Linked DNA regions of Homo sapiens: region 1 is linked to region 2. The links come from fine-mapping of genetic effects on gene expression. A gene starts in region 2. The other region holds a variant in brackets. All regions are shown on one strand. Distances are from middle to middle. Region 1 overlaps PRDM10 (PR/SET domain 10). Region 2 holds the start of PRDM10 (PR/SET domain 10).

What was found. PIP is the estimated chance that this variant, and not a neighbour inherited with it, causes the effect.
Region 1: its variant is fine-mapped to the expression of PRDM10 in skeletal muscle (GTEx, PIP above 0.99).

What each region holds. Positions count from the first base shown.
Region 1 is chr11:129,928,369-129,931,279 of GRCh38, forward strand. It overlaps PRDM10 (PR/SET domain 10), which reads right to left. Exons shown (of 21, transcript NM_199437.2): 11 at 2,648-2,890. Among named protein-coding and RNA genes, the nearest start is that of NFRKB, 34 kb to the left of the region's middle. The variant G/C (reference allele first, on the strand shown) is at 1,145.
Region 2 is chr11:130,001,285-130,004,195 of GRCh38, forward strand. PRDM10 (PR/SET domain 10) reads right to left here and starts at 1,551. Exons shown (of 21, transcript NM_199437.2): 1 at 1,438-1,551. It overlaps PRDM10-DT (PRDM10 divergent transcript), which reads left to right and starts at 1,340. Exons shown (of 1, transcript NR_024233.1): 1 at 1,340-2,911. RefSeq lists silencers at 585-764, 795-844, 855-1,174, 1,885-2,274 and an enhancer at 1,685-1,774.

The DNA of each region.
Region 1 (2,911 bases), 73 kb before region 2:
AATCATGTTTGTTGATTTGGGGTTTTGGGGGGGTTTTTTGAGACATGGTCTCACTCCATTGCCCAGGCTGGAGTGCAGTGGCACAATCACAGCTCACTGCAGCCTCGACTTCCCAGACTCAGAGGATTCTCTCATCTCAGCCTCCTGAGTAGCTGAGACTACAGGTGCCTGCCACCATGTCCACCTATTTTTTTGTATTTTTTTTTAGTAGAGACAGGGTTTCACCACGTTGCCCAGGTTGGTCTCGAACTCCTGGGCTCAAGCAATCCACCTGCCTCAGCCTCCCAAAGTGCCGAGATTATAGGTGTGAGACACTATGCCTGGCAGTTTTGGGGTCTTTTAAACAACTTTCCTTTGGACAATTTTCTGCCCACTTTGAAAGCCTTTGGTTGGCCAGCCCTGCCCAACTCGGCTCACTCTGCACCATCCTTCCACTGCACCCCTGCTAGGGCCAGGCTCATGTCTGCACTGTCCCAACCACAGCAAGAACCTCCTGTGTCTGGGCCTCTGATCCTATGGCTATCATTCTCTGAAACAGTCTACCTTCCTCCTCTCTTTCAAGGGCTAGTCTAAGTCTCACCTTATCCAAGAATTATCCTGACTCCTCTATTTTACTTCAACCTTTCACTCTTCCAAGTTATACTTTTACATTTAACACCTAACTGTAAACTCCCCTACATTAGTATTGATTTCCTACTTAGACTGCAAGCTCAAGTGAAAATTCTATTGTGTACCTAGCATAGTGCCAAATAGACAGTTAGAACTCAACACTATTGCATAAGTCATTCCAATGGTTTTAGCGCTGGAAGGGACCTTGGAGATCACTTAGTCCTACCCTTCATTTTGTATATGAGGAACCTGCAGCCCACAATTTATTCCTTGATCTATTTACAAATAAATTATCATTATTCATTAATTTGCATTTACTGTAGCAACCAAACTGTGGTTTCCACCAGGATTTAGTAAGTACAGGTTGCAAAGAACAGCAGGTCAGGCAAACAAGTAACATTCTGTTATGTGAAACACAGGAAACAAACCTACCTGCAGCTCCAACTGAGCAGGCAGCATTAGAGGAGAGAAAAATAGTTACATTACCAATTGGATTGGAAGACTTCCCTTCAGTTGGTCATTACCAATCTGGATA[G/C]AAAAGATGAAAAAATACATAGCCCTACTTTTTAGAATGTGTGAGAGAAAAAAAAACAAAATAGCTCAACTAAGACTGACCTCCAAAAGCCAGATACATATGGCTTTCGCTTTGACACAAGGAACCTTGCACCAAAACCAGTAACCCTGCTCATTCAAAAATGCAAGTACAATTACGGCTGGACTGTGTTTGTGCATCCACAACTTCACTGCATGTGTGGGCTTCGGTTTTTTTTTTTCCTTCCAAAAAAAAAAAAAAAATCTAGCAAGGGTTTCTCTGGACTTAGTAAAAAAAATCAGAATGGCCAAAGCAGAAAATATAGTAATTGAGCAAGAGAAAGAAGTGCAGATTAGGAACTAAAGGAGAAGGATGGATGGGATATTACTTCATAGCTTGTTTTCCTTGCTGGCCTGTATTTCTGTATGTTGATATACTCTTGTGAAATAATATACAGTGAGCTGAGAGTTTCATATGTTTCGATTACAGGGCTCTCATAAAGGCTGTTTAGCCTCAGTTCTTAGAGCCCTTCAAAGCTATCATATGACTACAAATGTTTAAATGTGTTTTTACATGAAGGCATGGACTAGACTATTTTTCAAGGTCCCTTCTAGCCTAGAGGCAAATAAGAAGACCAAAAGAAACATACGCTGAACGATCATGCATGTAGAAATTGTAAAGCCTGGGAAGTTATACAAAATGTCTCTTTCATCTACTGGAAAGTACCAATATGTCTTTATGCACTCAGCTGCCATAAACATGGGTTGTAAGTCATTGGTTTTTATCAGCACAGACACTTATCCCACAAAGCCATATTGTTTTCCACACGAATCCCCTGCAGTTCCTAACTCAGAGTCAAATGCTATTTGTGAAATAATAAGAGAAAACGCATCTGAACTGCAAGTCAGGAAAGCCCTGCAGCCGCATGGTCTGAGGCCAAGACACAGGTCCCGTGACTCAGACACTGACTAACTCTCGAACTGACAGCTTTGGCTCAAGCTATCCGCAGGTGTGTGAACTGTACCTGCCATATCAACTTGGACACAGGTCACTTTACATTGATGAGTAATGACATTTGCCATTCTCCCCTGGGAAGCTGTAGATAAGCACATTTAGTTACCCAAAATCAACTTGAGAGCTATGATTAGGCACAAATTAGCCTGGTTTAAAATATAAATGATTATTATAACTAAATGTACTTATTTCTCCACTTCCAATCTGTGAATTGAGGGATGCAGAGAGCTAGTCCAGGAGCTGCCAACCTCTAGGCCTCTGTGTCGTCACTAAATTGGTCAAATCTAGGACCAGCCATGCCAGCCTGCCATGGGACACAGAGACATTGAGAAATAGTGAACACTTTCTTTCAAAATAAGGGGATCGAGCATGTGACAGGCTAGATGCAAGATTTCAGAGAGGAAGGTGAATAGGTTAGAAAACCACCAGAGAGCTGGTGGTGGGAGGAAGATGAGCGGCTGGTGCCAGGAGCCGCCGGCTTTCCCCACTTACTCGGATGCGCTTGGCTCTGCGCATGTCGTCGGCTGTCAGCGTGCTCTGGGTGGGCACCACGCTCTCTTCATGCTGCGGCTGCAGGTGCAGGGTGTGAGTTTCTGGTTCATGTTCCAGGGAAGACTGGGTTTCCTGTGGCAGCTGAGGGATTGGGATAGTGGTCTGTTCTGGTTGATCCAGCCCATTCAGAGTGGCTGGTTCAGCCTCATCAAATTGCTCCTTTGTGGGAAAATGTAGCAAGTCCTGAAATTTGCAATAACCAGG
Region 2 (2,911 bases):
ATACAAAAAAAATACAATGTAATAATACACCTTCTTGCCTTACAGCGATGGAGGAGTGATAGAAACAAAGAGAACAGGTCAGAAAAAGAGGCCACAAAACAGTCATGAGTGATTCTGCTGTTTTTAATAAAGGTTAAGTACTGCTAAGTTTAGAGAATTTGGGGTGACGAGACAGGCAAGGTTTCAACAGGCAAAGCAGCAGAATTAGGGCACAGGGCAGAGCTGGGTGGGTCTCATCACACATCTAATCCTCGATGACAGCACAAAGCCACCTCTCCTTGTGCTTAAGTGTACACGCACATTGATTGAAAATGCACTAAAATCCAACTCATCCACCAAGCAAGGCTAAAGGCGCGCACACAAATTCAACAGCGCTGCGTTCGCGTGGCTGGAGGGCAGACGGGGAATATTCCATTTTACTTAGTAGAGTATCAACACCTAGCTGCAGGGTTAAACCTGCTTAACAAAAGCTGGCGAGGGGCTGGAGAGGTGCACACCATCAGCCCTCTCCCGAGCGCCGACCGGCCTCGCCCTGCCTCTGCGCTGCACCCTGGGTGCAGGCGGACTGGGGCAGGGCCGCGACCCCGGCCTCGGCCTCCGCCTCCGCCCGGCCAGCCCCGACGCGGTGCCACGGGACAGACCCGCAGGGGCCACCCCACACCCCTGCGGGCCGGCCCCCCGCCCCGGTCCCGGACGCTAGCTTGGGAAGGCAGGCCGGGGGCCCAGCCATCGATGGCAAGTGGGCGGCGCGGCCTCCGCAGACAAAGCTGGGCGCCCCATCGAACAGGACCCTCCGCCCCACGCGCCCGCAACCGGCCAGCCCCGGAGCCCTGCCCGCACTGCCACCCCCAGCCCGGCGCCCGGCCCCCAGCCCCCGGTGCTCGGCTCCCGGCCGGCGGAGACCTGCCCGCCGCGCCCGGAGCGCCCGCGCAACCGCCGCCGCCGGAGCGCGCAGGCCGCCCAACCGCCGTCCCGGCCCAACCAACGCGGGCAGGGGAGGAGAGGTGCGCGCGGCCGGCGGAGCGTGCGAGCCACTCGGGGGTCGCAGGGGGAGGCTGCGCGCGGCGAAGGCAGGGGCGACGAGACGCCGAGGCCGGCGCTGAACGCGGCGCCAGGAGGGCCTGCTGGAGGGGGCCTTGCCCTCTTCCCCTTGGAAGGTGCAGATGGTTTGACCCCCCACCCCGAGTGAGGTGCCTCGTCCCAGCCCCGGCTGGACTGTACCATCGGGCGGTGCCGCCGGGATTTCTCCCCCCCACCACCACCATCAATTCCCCCCCCACCCGGGTCCGCGGTCGGTTGGCCCCGGCCGGGCTCTGAGACGCGGAAAGAGCTGGGCGCCATTTTGGGTGGGACTAAGCAAAGACGAAACACCCTCCCAGTCTATGGGGTAGTCTGGACCCTGGCTTATCTGGTTCCCTTAATCCTTTAGGTACTTACACGACGTTGGGTGAGGGGAGCTGGAAGATCAGCGGGTCCCCGATCCTCTCTCCCTAGGGGTGATAGAAATCAACCCCCCCCGCCACCTCCAGGTGGTTCTTCCCGCCGCAGAGTGGGAGCAGCATAAAAGGCGGGGTCTTATTAGCATAATCTGCCTGGCAACCTGATCTCGACGTTATATGATTGGTTAAACTCTGTAAGCCCCATGCCGTGCCTAGAGACGAGAAACGCTGGGGCGAACTGACAGGCCCAGATTTAGGAGTCATGACGAAGATCCTGAGACGCTTATTCAGTCTGCAGAGAAGCCAAAAGGAGATTCACATAATGGCCCAATGACTGAAGGCCTCTTTATTTCGTGCTCTGCTGTTCGTGTAAAACCCAATCGCAGAGCGGGTCTCAGGCGGCGCTCGCCTGCGTTTCTACTCTCAGCCAATCAGAAAACCCGACTCTTCGCATTGGGGTCAAGCCCCCGCTGCGGCCCGCGTGCTAACGGGGAGGAAGCTTCCAGCTGTGCCTGGGTGTCTCGGGCGCCGAGGGCAGCCTGCGCCCGTGCTAAGCCCGCCTCCCGCGCGCCCGAGGGCCCGGTGTCCCGGAAGACGCGCGGGGGTGAGGCGGCCCTCGCGTCCGCCCGCCCCGCCACAGATTGCCTCCGAAGTGGCCTGGCCGTGGAGCGCCGGCGAAAACCGAACTCCCGCCCGGCTCCCGGAGTCGGGAGCCTGCCGGGGTCTCGCCCTCAGGACCCCCAGGGAGCGGCCGGGCGCCGCCTATCACCCTGACCCACCGCACCTTGAGAGCGCTTTCACTGCGCCTCTTTTTTCTCCTCTACCAATCTGGAAAGGAAGTGAGTGTCATTTCAGACATTGAGAAACATTATTCAACACTGGTTACCCAGTGACTCAGCTCACTCCTTAACCGCAGGCTTCCACATCCTGCTGTCCCTTAAAATTGCCTTCACAAAGGGCAGCCAAGAGCCCAGCTTTGGAGAGATACCCAGCTCCAACTACCCACTGGCAGGCAATACGCAGGGCAGCTAGATGGCAGAGAGACCTTGGACCTTCGGACCTTCGGGGAGCGGTTTTCCCTTCGGTGATATCTACCTTGCTATGTTCGTGATATCTACCTTGCTACGTTATTTTGAAGATTAAGTGAGCTCTTACTTTACCGAGTAAAGTGCTTTGCTTAGCACACTGTCTGGAACTTAAATGAGAAGTACTGACAATATAACTTACAAAAATCCTAAACTATTGCCTGAGAAAAAGAGGGAGACAGGACAGCTAAGCAAAAGACGAGAATAGAAAACACCCACAGCGTGAAAAACTGTAAAATTAACTCAATAGTATTCTCTTTACTGTTTTTTGTTTTGTTTTGTTGTTTTGTTTTTTGATACGGAGTCTCGCTCTGTTGCCCAGGCTGGAGTGCAGTGGTGAGATCTGGGCTCATTGCAACCTCTGCCTCCCGGGTTCAAGCGATTCTC